7 linked regions of the Homo sapiens genome follow. The protein of the gene in region 4 purifies or fractionates together with the protein of the main gene of each other region. This does not show direct contact. Each region holds a gene or a part of one and is shown on either strand. Other genes may lie near its edges.

Region 1 (3,500 bases), 7.9 Mb from region 4:
TCGAGGCCATCCTGGCCAACATGGTGAAACCCCATCTCTACTAAAACTACAAAAATTAGTGGGGCATGGTGGCACGCGCATGTAGTCCCAACTACTCCAGAGGCTGAGGCAGGAGAATCATTTGAACCTGGTAGGTGGAGGTTGCAGTGAGTGGAGATCACATCACTGCACTCCAGCCTGGTGACAGAGCGAGACTCTGTCTCAAAAAAAAAAAAAATAATAATAATAATAATTGGATACATAGAGATGGCTTCCCCAGCTGTCCTTAACTCCACCAACAGGGGTCAAAGGGAGGCCTCTGCACTAAGATTAAGTTTGCCACTCCCCAATGGGAAAAGGGTAAGCTCTATATTGGGACTAACTCTATACTTCCCAGGCACCTCTGCCCTTTCAACACACAGGGTCACCATCATTAGCTGCCTTGAGGGAACCAGGACAAATCTCAGTATCTCCATCATTCCTATTTATGTGCATCTCACAAAGGGTCATATCCTTCCTCTGCAGTCTTCCTCACAAGGGTCTGTACGACCACTAACCTTCATCTCCTAACCTTTCCCAATGCCTGAAACTTTTCCACTGGGCCCTCTAGAATTATCAGTCCATCATCAGCAAACACCCTCTGTCCTCAGTCTTTTCTGAGCATCCCCCCTTTACCCTCGTGCTCTGATAACCCTCTCCTGCTGCTTCTGCAGCTCTCTCAAACACTGTTTTTGTTTTGTTTTGTTTTGTTTTGTTTGTTTGTTTGAGACAGGGTCTCGCTCTGTGGCCCAGACTGGAGTGCAGTGGCATGATCTCAGCTCACTGCAACCTCCGCCTCCCGGGTTCAAGCGATTTTCCTGCCTCAGCCCCCCGAGTAGCTGGGATTCCAGGTGCATGCCACCACGTCCAATTTTTGTATTTTTAGTAGATGGGGTTTCGTCATGTTGGCCAGGCTGGTCTTGAACTCCTGACCTCAAGTCATCCACCCACCTTGGCCTCCCCAAGTGCTGGGATTACAGACATGAGCCACCATGCCCGGCCCTTTTTTTTTTTGTACTTCCACAGCTTCCTACCACTGAATCTAGAAATGGAATAGGTGTCCTCTTGCTTTCCTTGCTGGTATTTTCCCTCCATCTTCCCTAAAAGTCCCAGGTCTTAATCTCGTCTCTTCAAATTATATACACTAACTACTTATCATTGCCAAAATCCCATTCCTTCATCACCATTTATTAAATAGCTCCCAACTTGCACTCCCTCTAGACTATTCCTGTCTTAATTTTTGGCAATTTCAATGTACATCTAAGTAGAGGATCTCCCTTACAAATGATCTCTCAATTTCTGGTATATCTCCTCTTACGGTTTGGATGTCTGTCCCCTCCAAATCTCATGTTGAAATGTATTCCCCAGTGCTGAAGGTGGGGCCTGGCAGGAGGTATCTGGGTCATGGGGCAGATCCCTCATGAATAGCTTTGCACCATTCCCTTGGTGATGAGTGAGTTCTCGCTCTGGTAGTTCACACAAGATCTGGTTGTTTAAGAGTGTATGTTACCTCCCCACTCTCTCTGGCTTCCGCTCGAGATATGACGTGCCTGCTGCCCCTTCACCTTCCGCCGTGATGAGAAGTTTCCTGAGGCTGGCTGGGCGCGGTGGCTCATGCCTGTAATCCCAGCACTTTGGGAGGACGAGGTGGGTGGATCACCTAAGGTCAGGAGTTCAAGACCAGCCTGGCCTGAGGCCTCAGGAAACTGAGCTCAGAAGCTGAGCAGATGCTGACAACATACTTCCTCTACAGCTTGCAGAACCATGAGCCAGTTTAAACCTCTTTTCTTTTTCTTTTTCTTTTTTCCTTTTTTTTTTTTTTGAGACAAAGTCTCACTCTGCCACCCAAGGCTGGAGTGCAGTGGCGCAATCTTGGCTCACTGCAGCCTCCACCTCCCTCCTGCCTCAGCTTCCCAAGTAGCTGGGACTACAGGCACCCACCACCATGCCCGGCTAATTTTTGTATATTTTTAGTAGAGTTGGGGTTTCACCATGTTGGCCAGGCTGGTCTCAACTCCTGACCTCAACCACCTGCCTCAGCCTCCAAAAGTGCTGGGATTACAGGCATGAGCTGCTGTGCCCAGTCAAACATCTTTTCTTTATAAATTACCCAGCCTCAGGTATTCCTTTATAGCGAAGCAAAAAATGGACTAACCCACCTCCCTTCCAAGGATCTTGCTATCTATCCCTTCTTGCCCTCAGCTACTCACTCCCACAGTCATATACCAGATCTCATCATTAGACAATTGTAATCCCTACACAATTTAGTTCCATGTATCCTCTCTCTAACCACTATTCCTCATCTTTCCAGGTCATTCTCTCTAGACCCGAATTCCAACAACCCTTCAACCACACTGGTACCACTAATCTACAGATTACATCTTCTTTCTACTATACCTTGATGTGTTCCTGAATATCTCCCGAATCCTCTTCATCCAGTTTAATTTCAAGGTCCATCATTATAATCATTTTCTTACATACTCCCTCACCTCTCCTGCCCCATTAATACTGTCCTAGTAAAATCTAGCTCTCTACCCACTCCATGCCTGCCCCTATGCTGCTGTAAGTAGCCAGAGAAACACATATAATAAATGCATTCACACAAACCTTCTAACATATCATATAATATTGTCTGATGTCTTCCTACTAGAATGCCTCTCAGGCAGGAATTTTTTTTTTCTAAACTAATTTATTCACTGAAATATCCCAGTGCCTAGAATAGTGCATGTTAAATAGTAGAATCTCACTCAACATTTGTTGAATGACTGAATAGGAGTTCCAAAATAGAGAACACAGCATATGGGAGGGGAAAAAAATCAGTAACAAAATCATTCAAGAAATTTTCCCAGAACTAAAGGATGGGAGCTCCTAGAATTGACAGGGGCCCAGCATCACACATGAAAACTTCAAATCACATGACTATCTTCAAATTACACCAGAATGCTAGAGAGAAAGAGAATAGGATACAAGCTTCCACAAAGAGGAGAAAAATAGATCACAAATCAGAAAAGATCAGAACTCAAAATGTTCATGAAAACTCAACAGCCATGCTCGAAGTCACAGCACAATGAAGAAATGTCCTTTTAAAAAATCTTAAGGAGAACCATGGCAACTCAGGATTCTCTACCCAGCCAAACTATTTTAATCAAGTGAGAGGGTAGAATGAAGACATCTTCAGGCCTGCAAGGTCATGAAAAATTAACAATCCACAAACCCTCTTCTCAGGAAGCTACTGGAAGATGTACCAAAATAAGAGAATAAATAAGGAGAAAGGCATGAGACACCGGAAAAAGGGAACCCAACCTAAATCACATGCAAAGAAAATCTCCAGATGCCAATGAAGGGTGACCACATCTATGTACCGAGAGGGCAAGTCACTAGTTTAGAAAGGGACAAGTCAGATGCACCAAGATTCAACAAACTGGAACTGAAATAACACCAGATGCATCTGAAAATACTGAGTGGGATTAATCTACTCTTGG
Region 2 (3,500 bases), on a different chromosome or scaffold from region 4:
AAGCTAAAAAAACTGAGCAGAGATTTTGCTGCCCAATGTAGGGGAGACAGAGTTGAGTTTGAGCCCAGCCAGGTTAACTGCAGGCCAGAAGAAAATTAATTTTTCTTCATAGATATGTAACAGAATCCCTACTCTCTATGTCTCTATTATGATGTTAAGCATACAATAAAAAATTACCAAACATAAAATACAAAGAAGTCAGCACACGAGGACCTCACAGATGTATCATAAATATGCTCAAGGATGTAAAGGAAAATATACAGTGACAGTGAATGAACAAATTGAGAATCTCAGAACAATGGAAACTATTAAAAAGAAGGCAATGGAAATTCTATAACTAAAAACAACAGTGATTACGATGAAAAATTTGTTGCATAGGCAAACAGAGATTGGAGATGAAAAAAGAATCAGGCCAGGTATGGTGGCTCACACCTGTAATCCCAACACTTTGGGAGGCTGAAGTGTAAGGATCACTTGAGCCCAGGAGTTCAGGACCAACCTGAGCAACACAGTGAGACCCTGTCTCTACAAAAAATAAAAAAAAATTAGCTGGGTGTGGTGGCACACACCTGTAGTCCCAGCTGCTCAGGGGGCTAAGGTGGGAGGATAACTTGAGCCTGGGAGGTTGAGGCTGCAGTGAGCTATGATCACATTATTGCAATCCAGCCTCGGTGACAGAGCTAAGACCCCTGTCACAAAAAAAAAAAAAAAAAAAAAAAAAAAAGAAAAAAAAAAAGAAAAAGAAAAGAAAAAAAGAGAAAAAAGAATCAGTGAACGTGAAGATAAGTCAATAGAAATGATCTAATTTAAAGAACACACAGAAGAAAGATTGAAGAAAATTGAACAAGACCTCAGTGACCTGTGGGCCAACATTAAGTAAAATAACAAGTGAAAAATGGGCATAAAATCTTTGTTGAAAAAATAACAGCCAAGAATTTTCAAACTTGGTTAAAAAAAGTACAAATTTAAGAAACTCAGCAAACCCCAAACAAGATAAATAAGATAAATACTAAGAAAACCACATCTATGCGCAGCATGAACAAAAATAAAGAGAAAATTTTGTAAGCAGTGTAAGCAGAAGAAAAACAAATGACAATTTACATAGACAAGAATGATATAAATGACACTAACTGAGAAAATGGAGGCCAGAAGACAATAGAACAATGTCCTTAAAGTGATGAATTTAAAATAAACCAAAGCAAAACCACGGCAACACTGTCAACCCAAAGTTCTATATCCAGCAGTAGTATTCTTCAAAAATGAAGGCAAGACAAAAACATTTTCATATACATGAAATCTAAGTGTATCTGTCAGCAGTACACCTATAACAAATGTTAAAAGGAAGTTTTTAGGCCAAAAGGGAAAAAACATCAAATGGATTTTGATCTACAAGAAAGACTGAGAACAAGAAAAATGGTAAACATATTTTTCTATTAATTAATTAGTAGAAGAGAAGGCAACTCTTTTTTTTTTTTTTGAGATGGAGTCTCGCTTTGTCGCCCAGGCTGGCATGCAGTGGTGTGATCTCGGCTCACTGCAACCTCTGCCTCCCAGGTTCAAGCAATTCTCCTGCCTCAGCCTCTTAAGAGAAGGCAACTCTTGCATACTACTGGTGGGAATGTAAACTGGTGCAGCTATTTTTTTTTTTTTTTGAGACTCAGTCTCACTCTGTCGCCCAGACTGAAGTGCAGTGGCGTGATCTCGGCTCACCACAACATCGGCCTCCTGGGTTCAAGCCATTCTCCTGCCTCAGCCTCCCGAGTAGCTGGGATTACAGACGCCCGCCACCAGGCCCAGCTAATTTTTGTAATTTTAGTAGAGACGGGGTTTCACCATGTTGGCCATGCTGGTCTTGAACTCCTGACCTCGTGATCCACTCGTCTCAGCCTTCCAAAGTGCTGGGATTACAGACGTGAGCCACAGCACCTGGCTGGTGCAGCTATTATGGAAAATTGTACGGAGGAGGTTCCTCAAAAAGTTAAGAACAGAACTACTGTATGAACTAGCAATACCACTTCCAGGTATATATCCAAAGGAAATGAAATGAAACACATATAACTCTTTAAAGCAAAAACTATGACACAGTATTGTGAGGTTTATAATGTATGTATAATAGCACAAAGGCTGGGGTAACAGAACTATACTTTTGTAATATTCCAGGATTTTACATGAAGTATAATATTAACTCTAAATAGAATGTGATAAGGTAAAACTGCATAACGTAATCTCTCACACACACCCTCCCCCCCCAACACAAACACACAAGAGTAAAGCTAAAAGGCCAACAAAGGTATTAAAATGGAATACTAAAAAGTATTCCATTAACCTGAAAGAAGCCAGTGAAGGGGGAACAGAGGAACAAGAAAATATGTAAGACAAACAGAAAACAAATGGTAAAATGGCAGACCTAAATCTAATCACATCAATACTTACATTAAATGTAAATGGACTAAGCATTCCAACTAAAAGATTGTCAAGCTAGTTAAAAAAGCAAGACCCATTATATGCTGTCCACAAAGTCACACTTTAAATACAAAGGCCGAAAATGACAGAAAGAAATGACCAAATAAACATTAGCTAGATTAAAAATGAATCATTCAAATAGACTTCAAGTCAAGGAGTCTTAGCAGAGATGAAGAGGGACAATTTATCATGACAAGATGAGTTAACTCATCATAATACATATGCTTGTATCCAATAACAAAGTTTAAAAAAAATTAGCAGAAATAGAGCTAAAGAAAAGACAAATTTTAGCAAACAAGCAAGAAATAATACCAATATTAAACAAAATCTTTCAGTAAACAGAGGAAGGAACATTTTCCAGCCTATTTTATGAGGCTAGTATAATCCTTATAACAAAGCCTGACAAAGACATCACAAGAGAAGAAAAGTGTAAGAACAATATTCCTCATAAACACAGATACTAATATCCTTTAGGAAATATTAGCAAATCAAATTCAATAATATATAAAAACAATAAAGCATCATGATCAAGTGGGGTTTATCCCAGAAAGGTTGGTTTAACATTAGAAAAATCAATCACTGGCTGGGCACAGTGGCTCATGCCTGTAATCCCAGCACTTTGAGAGGCTGAGGCAGGCGGATCACGAGGTCAGGAGATCGAGACCATCCTGGCTAACACGGTGAAACCCTGTCTCTACTAAAAAATACAAAAAATTAGCCGGGCGTGGTGGCGGGCGCCTGTAGTCCCAGCTACTCGGGAGGCTGAGGCAGGAGAATGGCGTGAACCTGGGAGGTGGAGCTTGCAGTGAGCCGAGATCACGCCACTGCACTCCAGCCTGGGCGACAGAGCAAGACTCCGTCTCAAAAAAAAAAAAAAAAAGAAAAAATCAATCACTGTAATTCACCAAGTCAACAGAATAAGACTAAAATATGATCATTTCAATGGATGCAGAAAAAACTGACAAAATCCAATCACTATTCATTACAAAAATTCTCAGCAAACTAGGAACAGAAGGGAAGTTTGTCAGTATGATAAA
Region 3 (3,500 bases), on a different chromosome or scaffold from region 4:
ACCATTACAAAGCATTGGTGAACAGATTTCAAATAATTATAAAAACACAATACAATATCAAATGTTTGGAATCATCAAATAAGTGAATAGATAATATTTTAATGAATGACTGAATTAAAGCATGATAACAGTGTTCAAATCTCTAAATTGTATGGACCTGCTTGGATTTTGGAAGCACATTTATATGTTAATGGTAGTAATTGAAATTAGATTCTTTAGAAACACAGAAATTCATCTTTATCAGTTATTATAGTATCCCTAATTTCAAAAAGTTCAATTAAAAAATAAGATTGATTCTCCTTAGAATATTTGCTTACAAAGGTTCTGACGCAATTGTTTGAAACAAAATCTGTCATTCTGTATCATGATACAACTCAATTAACTGTCATAAGAAGACATCTTACTTTATTATCATAAAAGATGCCTAGCATTAAACTATCAACTACTTAATTTCCTCAGATAGGTGAACCTACTGTTATTCTTAAGTCAACAGGAACAGTTTGTATTATGCCAATTTTCCTTAAACGGTCTTTCTTGAGTCTTACGAGTTACCGTTCCAGTTCAGACTCCAATACTATATTCTTTACGGATCACTCCAATGTTAAGTAAAGCCATAATGGATTAGGTCAGTGGATTTTGAATTATGCTGGAGGCACTCTACAGAGCTTATTGGAGGTGCCTCAGTGGTCCTAGTGGTCAAACAGGTGGAGTTCCAAGATCCCGTCTCCCAAATCTTGATATTAGATCTTCATGTTTGTCATGTATAGACTGTCTAACGTATAGACTAATTTCAAAAAAATAATTCTGTTGCTTAAACATGTTTTAAAAACACAGTTGAAGTGATTTGGGAGACTTGCAGCATCTTGGCAAAAAAGTAGCAAGGTCCTCATGTCCCACACTAATCTTCAAATAAGTGGTCACAAAACACTGGATAGGATATTATATCTTTGCCCTACTCCACTACTATTATCCCTCAGCCTAGCCCAGGGTTCAGAGCCACAAGTCAAAACAGATCAATGCTTTAAGTAGATACTATCAAAATGATTAATATCCCAACCACTTCAAGCCTATTTTTCTTGCAGAAATAAGTGGCATATCAATTATTTGCAATATAACAAAACAAATTATTAGAAAACACTTCCTAAACTGCTACCCTTAACAACATGTATGACCTTTTTCTCACCTTTTATGCCAGACAAAGGAAATAAACACAGCAGTTATCACATTATACTTGCAAATGACTATACATTTTTATTTTTTTTTACATAAATTAAAATCAGATAGAGCCTTGATTCAGGGTTTGAATAGAGTGGCAGACTCACTAATTAAACTGCTTTCATGAATGGCCTTATTCCAAAGACAACATGTGGGAAAATAAACACTGTCAATTAAAACTTGATGAATAAGAACTCTAGGACTCAAAGAATAAGAAATGATTTTGATGAAATTATGACTCTTGAAAAGGAAATGCTGAGAGCTGGTGTTACTGTTCTCTATAAACTTATTTGTGGTCTTTTAATATAAAAGAAGCATCAAGTTTGTGTTCTTTCTCAATATGAAAAAAATAAGCAGAGATATTAGATGAACAAATATAAAAATGCTGGTGTGGCATAAATAAAATTGTATAATTTTTTTGTAGTAAATAAAAAATATATATGGTTTCTTTAAATTCTGAGGTCTTTCTTTTAAATACATAATCATTTGAATATAGATTCGGTCTACCAGGCCATGTATGTTCCCCAAATTATGACTTTTAGATAACATTTTAAAAGGGCTGAATTTCTTCAGACAAACAGAAAAATTGTCTGCAAATATTTTCAGTGAATGAATGGTGGTAAATCTGGCTCATATCTTGATTTATGTCCAAATTTATTGCTTACTAAATATTATCTTCTTTCCATTAAACGAGGATAGAATTGTGAAGCTAAGCCATCTTTCTTGTCAAAACATACGTGTGAATATACACAAATATATTCACAACCACACATTTTGATGCATGAATGTATAGATGTGTATATTACATACTTTTTGGCAAAGCACTGCTTCTAAGACCTACTTCTTTTTTTATGAAGAAAAATAGAATAGGGAACACCCCTTCCAAAACATTAGAATGCCCATACTACTAATGATATAGCACATCAGAATGTGCAAACAGTATACTTATTGCAAAGTATCTGATAGATTTAGATGCCATTATAAAATGTTCTCAATTCTATTTTGGTAACCTAAAATGTCGGTATATAATACCAAATATCCAGTTAAAGAGTTTAGTATAAAAATATCAGCACAAAACAGTTTTTTCAATCTGTTTATTGTATGAGCAACCCAAACTTCAGTTTAAGTGCTGTTGAAATTTTATTACTAGATTCCATAACCCTACAATTGATAAATCTTATACCATTTTAGGTATTTAATGAGATACTTAGAAATACTAAGAAAAAAAATCAGTATTCAAAGGGTTAATTTTGTTTATAATAACAATAAATAATTTTATAATCTTCTTCAGTTCAAAATCCAGCTTTGAACCCGAGGAAGGCTTTCGAATCATGTTAATTAAATGGTGGTCCTTTAACCAGTAGCAGTTTGATTACCAATTACTCGGAGGATCTCTTTGTGAATGCCTCCTTCTTGTGTATTAATATTTGCATCTCCCACTTGGCCGTCTTCATAGCTGAAATACAAAACATAAAAATATAAAAACATTTTAAAAGATGGCAGCATTTAAAACAGCTTAGAAATGCTATTTGATACCTAAAATATAGCCCAAGAGAATCAAAAGCAAATTATACGGTTGTTTTTCAGGTGTATTTAACAATGTGTTCTCATTGCGAAACACAGAACAGCCCATTCTATGTCATGCCTAAATTTTCCCCTTTCTTCCATTTTTTTTTTTTATCCCCGCATAAAAGACTGTCTGAGTTGCAAGAAGCTTCTCAGTGTCTTTGGCCTTGCAGGCATTTCCCATAGCAGCTGCTACGAAGTCTACTATAAAAAAATATAACAGCTTCAACTTTATGTTGCTAAGATTCTGGACTTCTTAATTCTACTCCTACTTCGATCATTTCTTTATTTTCTGACTGAAGACACTTCACTTTCTACCACTGCTTCTTTGCCATGCCTGCCTTCTAATAATTATTCAGCCATAATCAGTGCTGCCCTTTTTTCTTATCACTGGTCGCACTATTTAGTCTGACTGTAACATATTCTTATTTATTCTGGCAGTTCATAAAAGAATGCAAGCCTGCTAAGTTTACTTTATCAGTAGAAGGGAAAATATAATACTAAAGAACAGCAATTACTAAGTTCTTTAAAAAGAAATAGTTACATTTTAGATGGTAATTCATTTTTCTCAAATACAGTTACTTGGGCAATAAGAATTTCTTAAGAATGAATTTTCAAGCTTTCATGATCATATTCAGAGGGGAACAAGTGACAAATTAATTTTACTTCATAAAAATGGCTTCAAGACAGAAGCTTTAGAAAAGTGGTAATTACTTGAA
Region 4 (3,500 bases):
ACAGGCCACTGTGTGGGTGGTACAATAAAAACACGATATGGAAAAACAGGGCAAGGTGGTTTAAAACTAGAATTCAGAGACCAACCAAGACAAAGGCCACCAAGGCTTTCCAACAGAGGGGCACAAGGGAGAAATTCACACACAAGGCCACATGGACGTTTCACTGATGGCAAGGGGGAATCAAGAGGGTCCATGCTAAGGGACACACTCAAGAACAAGCCAAAGGCTGGGCGCAGCGGCTCATGCCTCCCAGCACTTTGGGAAGCTGAGGAAAATGGAATGCTTGAGCTCAGGAGTTTGAGACCAGCCCAGGCAACATGGCAAGACCCTGTCTCCACCAAAAATACAAAAAAATAGCCAGATATGGTGGTGTGAGCCTGTGGTACCAGCTACTTGGGAGGCTGAGGTGGAAGGGTTGCTTGAGGTTGAGCCGGGGCGGGTGGGGGGGTTGCAGCAGAGGTTGCAGTGAGCCTAGATTGTGCTACTGCACTCCAGCCTGGGCAACAGAGCAACACTGTCTCAAAACAAGGCCGGGCGCGGTGGCTCACGCCTGTAATCCCAGCACTTTGGGAGGCCGAGGCGGGCAGATCATGAGGTCAGGAGATCGAGACCATCCTGGCTAACAAGGTGAAACCCCGTCTCTACTAAAAATACAAAAAATTAGCCAGGCGCGGTGGCGGGCGCCTGTAGTCCCAGCTACTCGGGAGGCTGAGGCAGGAGAATGGCGTGAACCCAGGAAGCGGAGCTTACAGTGAGCCGAGATTGCACCACTGCAGTCCGCAGTCCGGCCTGGGCGACAGAGCGAGACTCTGTCTCAAAAAAAAAAAAAAAAAAAAAAACAAATAAACAACAAGAAAGAACAAGCCGGCTAGGTGCGGTGGCTTATGCCTGTAATCCCGGCACTTTGGGAGGCTGAGGTGGGCAGATCACCCGAGGTCAGGAGTTTGAGACCAGCCTGGCCAACATGGTGAAACACCGTCTCTACTAAAAATACAAAAATTAGCCAGGCATGATGGCACGTGCCTGTAATCCCAGCTATTTGGGAGGCTGAGGCAGAAGAATTGCTTGAACCTGGGAGGCGGAGGTTGCAGTGAGCTGAGATCGCGCCATTGCACTCCAGCCTGGGCGTTGCAGCAAGACTGTCTCAAAAAAAAAAAAAAAAAAAAAAAAAAAAAGCCAAGACCCAACATCCTGCCATCCTGTTGTCTGAACACTTCACCACATCCTGTTCATGAAGTGATTTCAGTGGAATTAAACCTGACCTGTTTAGCTTTATTTTGAGATAATGAATCCTGAGTGGAATTAGCTACAATCCCAGTCAATAGCCAATACAGGCCTCTTTGCACAGCCTGGGGCAGCATTAGTTATATATCACATCAGCCTGATGTTCAGCTCCACAGCCCTCTATGTGAAAACCACTCATGATACCCAAGACCTGCTCCAACCTCCCATTTCATAGGGGGGACAGTGTTCGCCACCCTGCCACTACTCAACCACCCTAGACCCCATAGAGTTGAGGTAATTAAAAGACATGGTGCTTTAGTGAAGCACATGGTATGTGGAAGGAGCTTAACAAACTCTGGCTACTATTACTACAAACACACTCATGGCTCCCAGGACCACATCATATCTTCCAATTAAAAAGAAAAGAAAGAGCTACTCGTGGTAGTGGTTTCTAGTATAACCAAATTATTGGATTTGGGTAAAAGCTACTTCTATATGGTGTGTGGTATTACAACTTCTTAACTTATTAAGTAACCTCAGCAGGTTGGGATTAGAGGAGACCCACACCCACAGGGAAGACAAAAACCATAAAATACAAGTTATACCTTGCACAGAGTGACAATGCAGGGGACATTCTCCACACTTAGTCGTATGCAGTCATAAGGGTCATCTGACAATTCAATGTCCTTCGACCCCTCTTCATCCTCCAAAACTCGAACCCTTGGTATCCTGGAAGCAGAAGCACTAGTAAAATTCCCACTTGGAGGAGGAAAAATAACTTCTTTTTAAGATTGAGAATAGGAGTTGGAATCCCTGTGTCTCACAAGAGAAAGACACGCTATGCCTATTCTTTATCATCCTCATCCCTGTCATCCCTGTCAAAAGCACACAGGAGGCGCCGCAGTGCAATGAGGAAAGGCATCTTTTAGAAAATGATGCTGGGTCAATCAGATATCCCAATGGAAAAAAAAGAATCTCAATCCCTACCTCACACCACACACACGAAGCCATACCAAATAGACCATAGATATAAAAAATAAAAGACAAGACAATAAAGCATTTAGAAAAAAACATCTGCATGACCTTGGAGTAGACAACTATTTCTTGAACAGGATACAGAAAGAGAAAAAAGTTACATATTCAATTATAACATCATGAACTTCTGTATATCAGAAGACATCATTTAAAAACTAAAAATATAATCTGGGGAGATAAAATACTACCTGACAGATTACATAAAGAATTCCTATTAAACAAAAAAAAGACAGCCCAACAGAAAAATGGACAAAAGACTCAAACGTAGAATATATTTGGATGTCTTCATAAAAGAGGCTGTCTGAGTAGCCAATAAACCAAGAAAAGGTGCTCAATTTAAATATCTATTAAAAATGCAAATTAAAACTACACTGTGATACCAAGGCACAACCAAAATAACTATTAAAAAAAAAAACAAAAAAAAAAAAACGCCAGGCATGGTGGCTCATGCCTGTAATCCCAGTACTTTCAGAGGCCAAGGCGGGAGGATCACCTGAGGTCAGGAGTTCGAGACCAGCCTGGCCAAGATGGTGAAACCCCATCTCTACTAAAAATACAAAAATTAGCTGGGTGTGGTGGTGCACACCTGTAATCCCAGCTACTTGGGAGGCTGAGGTAAGAGAATCGCTTGAACCTGGGAAGTGGAGGTTGCAGTGAACTGAGATCACGCCACTGCAGTCCAGCCTGGGAGACAGAGTGAGACTCCATCTCAAAAAAAAAAAGCAAGAGTTGACAAAAATGTGAAACAACCCGGAACTCTTACATACACTGCTGGTGGAAGTGTTAACTGGTAAAACACTTTGTGAAACTGGCAGCATCTACCGTAACTAAAGATAGCCATACCCTATAACCCAGAACACTCCTCCCTAACAGAAATAGAGAAATATGTGCACCAAAGACATGCACAAAATGTTCATGATGCCCATCCCTATTTGTAATAGCCTCAAACTGGAAATGAACCAGATGGCCATCAACAGTAGACTGATAAACAACAGCAGACTGGACAGTAGACTGGATAAACAGCAGACTGGACAAAGTCACACAATGGAACACCATACAGCAAAAAGCAAGCTATGACTAAGGCAGCAACACAGATCTCTCAAAACACAATGCTTAGTGAATGAGGCAGACACAAAACAGAACATAGTATATGATACCATTTATATCAAGTACAAAAGTAATCTATTCTTTTAAGATGCTGGTTATCATCAGTGAGTGTAATTGCATGGGGGTACAGAAGG
Region 5 (3,183 bases), on a different chromosome or scaffold from region 4:
ACCGTGTTGCATGAAGATTAAATTAAGTTGTGTAGAGCACTTCACACAATACTAGTACATAGTATGTCCTAAATAATGACTAATATCCTTTTGATTTTGCTGTCTTTCTAAATTACTCTACACTAGGAAGATCTCTGATTGGGCTAATGCTTAGAGTTGCAAGTTTGAAATAGAAAACAGTTTGTTTTGGCTATATATTCCCTAATATTAGAAAAAAACATTGAGGGGAACTTTCTGTATTAAGTGAATGTGAAATGTTGATATAGTTGATTATTATCTGGCAAAATAACCTAAACTGAGGTGATACATAAAAAGACAAGGAGAATACCTGACTAAATGTACAAAGATAAGGAAGAAAGAAAGGAAACTATTATGTTACCTTTTCAAATGACCACTATGTACTGGGCACTGTGGTTTCTATCTCAGCTTGGCACTGACAGGCCGTTGGCCTTTCTCCCATAGACCTCTCTTCCATCCTTTACTCATGCAATGTATACCTTCAAATGTGCCTACTTCTGTATCCTTCTTTGTTTCAGAGAAAGAAGTAGCCCTGCTCTTACGAATAATCTCTACCCACCAAATCTAATGTACTCCGTCATCCCTTAAGCATCGTAAATTCCTTTAGCATTTTGGTCTGTCAGAGAGTATCCTTCCTCCTAACCACATATGTTTAAAATGAGGAATCACATATGGCCACATAGTGAATTTTCCACTGGAAACAACAAGAGGGGTTTAGCTGTGTTAGCCTGACTGTGTATTGTGTGACAGTCAAACAGCACCAACCCTTACCTTGGCTGCTTTTCAGAAACAACAAAGAACATGTGGAGCTTCAGAGTTGGCGAGTATGGTCTTCTTTATGAAAACGTTTAACCCTACTAGAGGTTATATGAAACTGGCAGAATTAACAAACATCATATGCATAAAATATATTGTAATATTTTCTGACAGCAATACCTTTATTCAGCATGGCCAGAAAACCAATTTTCATCATGTAGAGATGTTCAAATTCAATAGATTATTTTGCAGACATTATTACTTTATATGTGAATCAATGTTTCCTGCTTGATTTTTTCATTTAGAAAGCCTTATCTGTGAATCATGGTTTTTCTCTTCTACCAAGCTCTGCCAAAGATTAATGGCAGAGTTATCCTGGTAGGAAATGGTGGATTTCAATTTCCCATTGGAATCTATACTGCTTAAGTTGAAGAATGTCCCTGAAGACCACATAAGTGCATAAGCAGTCCAAATGCATCAGATCAAACTTCATCCAGAAGATAAATGAAAAATAAAGAGAGGAGAAAGAGAAAGTGTGGAAATATCAAATGAGGGGCAGGATTGTACCCAAGAAAAAAAAAGCTCTGTAACACTATTTTTCTTCTAAAAAAAAAAAAAAAAAAAAAGATGTTAGAATCTCCCATCATATTTCTTTTTCTCTTTAATCTTCTTCACAGTCCTCCAGAGCACTGTGATGGCCACACACCATAACAGAGATAACAGAGGCAGATGATGATCATGACAGCAGAGTAACATGGTGAGTCCCAAGTAGTTGATGTCAGGGAAGACCATGAGACTATATGGGGCCAGGCACAGTGGCTCACGCCTGTAATCCCAGTACTTTGGGAGGCCAAGGCAGATGGATCAGTTGAGGTCAGGATTTTAAGAACAGCCTGGTTAACATGGTGAAACCCCATCTCTACTAAAAACATAAAAATTAGCCTGGTGGTGGTGGTGGCCTGAGGTGGGAGAATCGCCTGAGCCTGGGGGGTGGAGGTTGCAATGAGCCGAGATTGCACCACCTCACTCCAGTCTGGGCGACAGAGTGAGACCCTGTCAAAAAAAAAAAGAAAGAAAGAAAGAAAGAAAACGAAAGAAAGAAAGAAGGAAAGAAAAAGAAAGAAAGAAAGAGAGAAAGAAGAAAGAAAGAAAGGAAAGAAAGAAAGAAAGAAAGAAAGAAAGAAAGAAAGAAAGAAAGAAAGAGAAAGAAAGAAAGAAAGAAAGAAAGAAAGAAAGAAAGAAAGAAAGAAAGAAAGAAAGGGAAAGAAAGGAAGGAAGAAAGAAAAAGAGAGAGAGAGGGAGGGAGGGAGGGACAATATGGGCTTCTTTGTGGCTATGGAGTTTGCCAACTGTGCCACTTTTGAACTCATTTCTTCCTCCCTCATCTAGATCTTGTCAAAAAATAAATGTAGGACACAAATCTAAGCCATAAAGGAGAAAATAATAAGAGATATATATGAGGAGGTAACACAGCAGGATGAGTTGGCCCGGAATTTTTAGTTTGAAGACTTACATATTAAATTCTGTGACCTTAATTGTTCCTTATCTGGATACACCAAAGAAAGGCTGGATATTGGATATATGATTGAGCTAGAATTATTCTTTGTTTGAAGTAGAGGGATATTTTGTGGACATTTTTTTTTTTTCCAAGACAGAATCTGGCTGTCTTGCCCAGGCTTGAGTACAGTGGCACGATCTCGGCTCACTGCAACCTCTATCTCCCAGGTTCAAGCAATTCTCCTGGCTCAGCCTCCTGAGTAGCTGGGATTACAGAAGTGCGACACCACGCCTGGCTAATTTTTGTATTTTTAGTAGAGATGGGGTTTCATCATGTTGGCCAGGCTGGTCTCAACTCCTGACCTGGTGATCCGCCCACTTCGGCCTCCCAAAATGCTGGATTTACAGGAATGAGCCACAGCGCCCGGGCGACATTTTGTTTTTTTAATGGAGCCAGATGCAATATCTGTGTTGTGCAGCCCAGGTATTTAAACACTTGAGCACACATCAAACACAGGAACAGCTTTTTACTTACTCTCAAGTTGATTGACCTCCAGGTAATAGTTTTCAAGGTTTTCATTGACAGTTGGTATGTTTTTAAGCTTGTTATAGGACAGATCCAGCTCAACCAGGGATGACACATTGAAAGAATTTCCAGGTATTCCACTATCAGCCAGTTCGTTGTGAGATAAACGCAGATACTGCAATGCATTAAAACGCTTGAAATACTCATCAGGGATGTTGCTGATCTTATTGTTGTCTAAGTAGAGAGTTAGAAGAGAGACAGGGAGACCAGAAGGCAGTCTGGCTATCTGATTGAAGCTCAAGTCAAGGTATTCGAGTGATTTAAGACCTTTAAAAGCAGCTGAAACAGCATCCTCTTTCAGCCGATTGTGCTGGAGATGGATGAAG
Region 6 (3,500 bases), about 110 Mb from region 4:
TATAATCTAATTAACAAAAGTTAAAGGCAAAGAGAGAATCTTGAAAGCAGCAAGAGAAAAGTAAATCGTCATACACAAGGGAGCTTTCATAAGATTTCAGCAATTTTGCAGAGGAAACATTACAAGCCAGAAAGGAATCAGGTGATATATTCAAAGTGCTGAAAGCAAAAAACAAAAACAAAAACAAAAACAAAAACAAAAACAAAAACAAAAAAAACCCTGTCAATCAAGAACACTATATCAAGCAAAATTGTTCTACAAGAACAAAAGACAAATCAAATCTTTCCCAGATAAACAAAAGCTAAGGGAGTTCTTCACTACCAGACCTGCCTTACAAGAAATACTAAGAGGAGTCCTGCAAGTGGAAATGAAATGACACTAGACAGCAACACAAAAGTACATGAAAACATAAAGCTCACTGGTAAAGGTAAATATATACACAAGTACAGAGTACACTAACACTGTAATGGTGGTATGTAAAACATTTTTAATTCAGATATAGAATTGAAAAGATGACAGTATAAAAAATAACTAACTATAAGCTATATTAATGGATACAATAAGATGTAAACTGTGATATCAATAACATAAAATAGAAGTGGAGAAACATACAAGAGCAGTATTTTTGTATAAAGTCAAAGGTTATTACCAACTTAAAAGACAATGTTTTGTGTAAGCCTCATGGCAACCACAAAGAAAATACCTATAGAACATATACAAAATAAAATCAGAAAAAAAATCATAGCATGTCAATACAAAAATCAACAAAACAAAAAGGAAGGCAGCAGGAGACATGAGAGACAAAATAGCTATAAGGCAGAAAACAATCAACAAAATGGCAACAGTAAGTCCTTCCCCATCAGTAATTATTGTAAATGTAACTGGATTAAACTCCCCAAACAAAACACACAAAAGTAGCTGAATGAATTTTTCAAAACACACACTCATACACACAAAATACAATTACAGTATATGCTGTTTACAAAAGATGTGCCTTAGATGTAAAGACACACATATACTGAAAAAGATGAAAAAGATAATCCATACAAATGGTACAAAAAAAGAGCAGAAGTGGCCATACTTACACAAGACAAAATAGACTTTAAGTCAAAGACTGTCACAAGAAAAAAAGAAAATTATATAATGATAAATGGGTCATTATTCTGGAATATATAACAATTATATATATATGCACCTAACACCAGAGCACTCAAATATATAAAGTAAACATTGCCAGAATGGAAGGGAGAAGTATTTAGTAACATAGTAATAGTAGGGTATTTCAATAATCCACTTTCAATAATGGACAGAAAAATAAGACATAAGAGGACCTGAACAACACTACAGATGAATTAGACCTAACATAAATACACAGAACACTCCACACAACAGCAGCAAAATATGCATTCTTCTCAAGTGTACATGGAACATTCTCCACGACAGATTTCATGTTAGGCCACAAAACAAGTCTTAACAAATTTAATAAGACCGAAATCATAGCAAGTATCTTTTCGAAACACAAAGAAATGAAACTAGACATCAATAGCAGTAGAAAAATCAGAAAATCCACAAATATGTAGAAATTAAACTACACACTCTTGAACAACCAAATACACCAAAGAAGAAATCATAAGAGAAATTAGAAAATACCTTTAAACAAATGAAAACACAAACACACATAGTAAAACTTAAGAGAAACAGCAAAAGCAATACTGAAAGGAAAGTTTTAGCATGAACACCTACATTTAAGAAAAAAAGAAAAGTCTCATATCATACTTAATACTTCAAGGAACTAAATAAAGAACAAATTAAACCAAAAATTATCCAAAGAAAGAAAATAAAAATGATTAGAGAAAAAAATAAATAAAATAGAGAACAGAAAGACTTTAGAAAAAAATCAACAAAACTAAGAGTTTTTTGAAAAACAACAACAAAATTAACAAGTACTTAGTTAGATTAAGAAAAAATGAGGCCGGGCAAGGTAGATCATACCTATAATGCCAGCACTTTGGAAGGATAAGGTGGGAGGACCAGTTGACACCAGGAGTTGGAGACTAGCCTGGGCAATATGGTAAGACTGATTTCTACAAAACATATTTTAAAAAGTCAGCCAGGCCTGGTGGTGTATGCTTGTATTTCTAGCCACTTAGGAGACTGAGGTGAGAAGATCATTGAGCCCAGGAGTTTGAGGCTGCAGTGAGCTGACTGCACCAATACACCCAAGCCTAGGTGACAGAGCAACACCTCACCTCCAAAAAAAAAAAAAAAGAAAGAAAGAAAAAGAAAAAATACCAGAAGCGTAATAACTAAAATCAGAAATGAAACAGCAGACATTACAGTTGATGCCACAAACATTGAAAGGATTATAAAAGACTACTAAGAATGCTAATAAACTGGATAACCTAGAAAAAGTGGATAAATTCCTAGAAACATACCACCTACCAAGACTGAATCATGAAGGAAGAGAAAATCTTAACAGACGTATAACTAACAAGGAGATTGAATCAGTAAGCAAAAACCTTCTAACAAAGAAAAGCCCAGGAGCAGATAGCTTCACTGCAGAATTCCACCAAACATTTAAAAAGAAATTAATGTCAATCCTTTTCAAAATCTTCCAAAAAAACTGAAAAGGAGGGAGTACTTCCAAACTCATTTTATCAGGCCAGCATTACTCTGATACCAATGCCAGACAAATATATTACAAGAAAACTGCAAGCCATAAGTCCCTGATGAATACTGACGCAAAAATCCTTAACAAAATACTAGTAAACTCATGTCTGGGGAACGCACGTGCTACCACCACCGGGCTGAAAAAAAGAAACCCAATCTAGCCTACTGGACAATGAGAAGCCACGTACACCCCGGCCAATAGCCAGAACCAAATGCAAGATATATGAGTGAGGCCACATTAGACCATCCAGTTCCAATCAAGCTATCAGATGACTAACTGCATGAATGACCCCAGGTGAGAAAAAAATAAGTGCCAGCTAAGCTCAATCAAAATTATATAATTATAAGAAAATAAATGATTGTTGCTTTACATCGCTGAATTTGGGAATAATTTGTTACAAAGCAATAAATACTTAATAAGGCATACCTTCTTGTTCTGCTTTTTGACCTAGACCTCTGAACTCTATAGGATTTCCCTCGACCCCTTGAACGACTTCGACTTCGTTTCCTTCTGGAGCCATAAGAAGAGCTACTGCTTGATCGATGCCTGCGTCTGAAATAAAATATAATCAAAGATCACTGCTATAAAAATTTTTATTATGAGCATTAAGGAAAAACCTTCTAGATTCTAAAGAATCATCTGATTTTTACTGTCTCACTGTTTCCTGGAAGCAAACAGAGATAAATTAAAATGTTATTTCTCTTGAACAGTCATATGACTGGTTCATAACTTAGTGATTGGATCAGTACTAATTAAGGTATTAAGGGTCTTAGAATCTTTCCAAATATCATCAGATTATATGGTATGAAAACTAAACCAAGGCCAGGCT
Region 7 (3,422 bases), on a different chromosome or scaffold from region 4:
CTCCCGGGTTCAAGCGATTCGCCTGCCTCAGCCTCCCGAGTAGCTGGGATTACAGGCATGTGCCACCACACCTGGCTAATTTTGTATTTTTAGTAGAGACTGGGTCTCTCCGTGTTGGTCAGACTGGTCCTGAGCTCCTGACCCCAGGTGATCTGCCTGCCTCAGCCTCCCAAAGTGCTGGGATTACAGGCATGAGCCACCGCACCCAGCCTACATATCCATTTTGTAAGAGTGTCACTGTGGCAAAACCCCAACTGGTAAATGAACCTATTATTTCACCTATGTTTCTCTTATGCTAAATACAATGAACATAAAAGACTTAAGAGCCTTCTTCAGGAAGACATTTTTGGAACAGAATTATAAATATTTTGGGTAATAAGTTGCTAGAATTTTTTAAATAAAAATAGAGAGTATAATACTTCTCTCACCAACATAAACAAAATTAGAGAAACAGAAGAAAGAAAAAGCATTGAGGAAAGATAATTTTAAGAAAGTGCAGATTGAATTCGAATTAATTTTATTTTATAAGGAATTTAGAAAACATGAGCAAATATTCATATTGCATTAAAAAAACAAAGTCTATATATCATTCAAATTTTAAAAGTCAGTGTGACACTAAAAAATGTACTAACAAAGTAATATGTTTCATTTTAGAACAAAATTTTATCAGTGGCTCATCACAACTGATATACAAACAAAATGCTAAAATGATGTAAAACTGAATCTCAAAGTGATCCAGTTGGATGAAGGGAGCACCAATTATCATCGATGTGGGACTGCCATATACTCTACCAAAGAAAACAAACTACCATTAGGTGATAAAGATGAGCAAATAAATAAACTAGAGGGAGGGAATGAGCCCACAATTTCTGAAATTTTACAGTAAGTGGTTTATTTGTTTCTGTTGTTACATGTCTTTTGTCTGTTTTCTTCCTTCAAGAAATTAAGTGGATGTGTGAAGGATCCAAGAATATTTCCCAGGTATATCTTACTTTTTCAGGAAGAATAACTTTATACTGAAGAAATAATGATTAATACTCCCTATCACTTCAGCCACTGAATATACTATTAAAATTATTTGTTTTTACAACTATAGTATGCTTTTATTTATTTATTTTTAAACTGTAAGTCAATAATATTTAAAGAATGAAAGTCTCTTCATTTAAGAAATATACAGTCATCCTTTGGTATGAGAGGGGGACTGATTGCAGGACACCCCTTAAACCCCTCCTCTATACCAAAATCCATGGATGTTCAAGCCTCTTATATGAAATGGCTTGCTATATGCATATAACCGATGCACATCCTCCTGTATACTTTAACCGCCTGTATACTGTAACCTTTAAATTACTTAAAATACCTAACACAATGTAAATGTTATAGTAAAACTTTTACAGCTGTTAAACTGTATTTTTAAAATTTTACATTCTTTTTTTCTTTTTTTTTTTTTTTCTATTTTTGATCTGTGGTTGGTTTAATCTGTGGGTTTGAAACCCTTGGATATAAAAGACTGACTTTATTTAACTCCTGAAAAAAATTCCTTTTTTGAAAAGTGACAATAACATGAAGTTAATACATCAGGAGTCTTGAAAAGAATATTAGGTAATCCAATTATAACAATTTAAATTAGAATATTCAGGAACTGTATCTTGAAGGCTCAAAAATACTATTTATTTATTTATTTATTTATTTTTGAGATAGTCTCACTCTGTCGCCCAGGCTGGAGTGCAATGGTGTTATCTTGGCTCAGATTCTTCTGCCTCAGCCTCCTGAGTAGCTGGGATTACAGCCACCCACCACCATGCCGACTAATTTTTGTATTTTTAGTAGAGACAGGGTTTCACCATGTTGACCAGGCTAGTCTTGAACTCCTGACCTCAAGTGATCTGCCCACCTCGGCCTCCCAAATTGCTGGGATACAGGTGTGAGTCACTGCGCCCAGCCTCAAAAACACAATTTATGATTCCTTGTGAATTAAATTTCACTAAGATGAAGCACATCTAAGTTTAAAACTTGGGTACCATTATGTTTTACAATTTTTAAGAAAGAAAATTCACAACCTACTCAATAATCCTGAAGAAAAATCAGATTAAAAGTAGTAGGATATTTGTACATACAACATGTATAGATATATAAATAAACACTTTCTAGAAGGAAAAGGTATCATATTTAGTATTTATAGGCTACACTCTTTCTTTTAAGGAAGATTATAAAAGAGGGGCTAGGTATGGAGCCAGAAGTTGTGAGGGAAACCTCAAAGTAGTAAATACTATAACTCTTTGTAGAGTTTTACACTCAGTGTAAAGAAATGCAAAAAAATCCTTATACTATTAAATCTTTACTTGTATAAAAACCGAAATTAGTCCAACTACTTTTTGCCCATTTATGATGATAAAAATTGAAACAAAAACTCTCAACCCATTTTGTAAGACTTCTATTATAACATTCTTAAATCCAGTTCATATTGTTCCAGAGTCATGTAACATCAAGGTGGGGACACAAAATATGATAGTGAATTTTACCTTTTCTTAGGAAATGATCACAATTTCATTGAAAGTACAGGATAAAGTGAATAGCCCCTTAACGACTTGTGTACTTTATTGTCTTCAATAGAAAGTTCAAATATTTCCATTTTTTAAACCTCTAGAATATTATCCGGACATTTAAAATATTGATATTTGAGTTTACATTAAAGGACATCATACTCTGAAAACAGGCTGGCTTTAAATATAGTTTGACTGATTGTGGGGGTACTTACGGACAGATTTCTTTACCAAGTACCAGTTTCTTATATTTAAAAAAAATCAGCAAGATAGAATTTAAAAAATCTTCATTTACAATACATTGTAAACTGCAGACAGCAACTGCCACATACATCATAGACCAGCACAGGTAAAAATCTTTTTTCCGGATGTCTATAAGACTTTGTATCTTCCTTTATTTGTTGGTTGGTATGAATTTTGCTGTAATAGGAAATAAAAGATATGTCATCAGAGAAAGCAAAACAAAAAAAACAAAAAAAAAAAACGAACCAACCAACCAACCAAACAAACCCAAAAGGAAATATTTAAGATCATTTCCTTTGCCAACTTATAAAACTATTGGTTATTTAAAATTTTAAATGTTACTATTACTGCATTGAGAAAGGAAAAACTATTCAATAACTAATGAATTCTCTGTTCACTCAACTATTCCTTAACAACTATGTTTTGAATCAACCTAATGGTGGTAGCATCTATGGGCACAAGATTCTTTTCGACCACTCCTTGGTGAAATAGTATTAAGCACATGATTTAACAGCTGTTTTACTTTTTCCCTCTTGTTTTGTGAACCCACTTTTCATTAAACTTCTAACCACCCCCACCCCCCAACAAAAAAAGGAATGCTCTGTGAGGGGAATTTTAGAAAAGCTCTCAGAATTA

Evidence for each region.
Region 1: the proteins of EXOSC7 (region 4) and LRRFIP2 fractionate together in Homo sapiens (co-fractionation; one large-scale study listed by BioGRID). This does not show direct contact.
Region 2: the proteins of EXOSC7 (region 4) and USP30 purify together in Homo sapiens (affinity purification with mass spectrometry; 3 studies listed by BioGRID and IntAct, with this or other methods). This does not show direct contact.
Region 3: the proteins of EXOSC7 (region 4) and PARP8 purify together in Homo sapiens (affinity purification with mass spectrometry; one large-scale study listed by BioGRID and IntAct). This does not show direct contact.
Region 5: the proteins of EXOSC7 (region 4) and LUM purify together in Homo sapiens (affinity purification with mass spectrometry, with the first as the bait; one large-scale study listed by BioGRID). This does not show direct contact.
Region 6: the proteins of EXOSC7 (region 4) and RSRC1 purify together in Homo sapiens (affinity purification with mass spectrometry, with the first as the bait; one large-scale study listed by BioGRID). This does not show direct contact.
Region 7: the proteins of EXOSC7 (region 4) and DDX46 fractionate together in Homo sapiens (co-fractionation; one large-scale study listed by BioGRID). This does not show direct contact.

Annotation. Positions count from the first base shown.
Region 1 is NC_000003.12:37,059,583-37,063,082, forward strand, and holds part of LRRFIP2 (leucine-rich repeat flightless-interacting protein 2), read right to left. Parts: intron 1-3,500. UniProt on the Homo sapiens protein: May function as activator of the canonical Wnt signaling pathway, in association with DVL3, upstream of CTNNB1/beta-catenin.
Region 2 is NC_000012.12:109,076,576-109,080,075, reverse strand, and holds part of USP30 (ubiquitin carboxyl-terminal hydrolase 30), read right to left. Parts: intron 1-3,500. UniProt on the Homo sapiens protein: Deubiquitinating enzyme tethered to the mitochondrial outer membrane that acts as a key inhibitor of mitophagy by counteracting the action of parkin (PRKN): hydrolyzes ubiquitin attached by parkin on target proteins, such as RHOT1/MIRO1 and TOMM20, thereby blocking parkin's ability to drive mitophagy.
Region 3 is NC_000005.10:50,841,137-50,844,636, reverse strand, and holds part of PARP8 (protein mono-ADP-ribosyltransferase PARP8), read right to left. Parts: intron 2,672-3,500; coding exon 2,569-2,671; 3' UTR 1-2,568. UniProt on the Homo sapiens protein: Mono-ADP-ribosyltransferase that mediates mono-ADP-ribosylation of target proteins.
Region 4 is NC_000003.12:45,003,744-45,007,243, reverse strand, and holds part of EXOSC7 (exosome complex component RRP42), read right to left. Parts: intron 1,954-3,500; coding exon 1,830-1,953; intron 1-1,829. UniProt on the Homo sapiens protein: Non-catalytic component of the RNA exosome complex which has 3'->5' exoribonuclease activity and participates in a multitude of cellular RNA processing and degradation events.
Region 5 is NC_000012.12:91,105,312-91,108,494, forward strand, and holds part of LUM (lumican precursor), read right to left. Parts: coding exon 2,807-3,183; intron 1-2,806.
Region 6 is NC_000003.12:158,123,589-158,127,088, reverse strand, and holds part of RSRC1 (serine/Arginine-related protein 53), read right to left. Parts: intron 3,224-3,500; coding exon 3,098-3,223; intron 1-3,097. UniProt on the Homo sapiens protein: Has a role in alternative splicing and transcription regulation. Involved in both constitutive and alternative pre-mRNA splicing. May have a role in the recognition of the 3' splice site during the second step of splicing.
Region 7 is NC_000005.10:134,828,200-134,831,621, reverse strand, and holds the end of DDX46 (probable ATP-dependent RNA helicase DDX46), read right to left. Parts: intron 2,964-3,422; coding exon 2,916-2,963; 3' UTR 501-2,915; downstream 1-500. UniProt on the Homo sapiens protein: Component of the 17S U2 SnRNP complex of the spliceosome, a large ribonucleoprotein complex that removes introns from transcribed pre-mRNAs.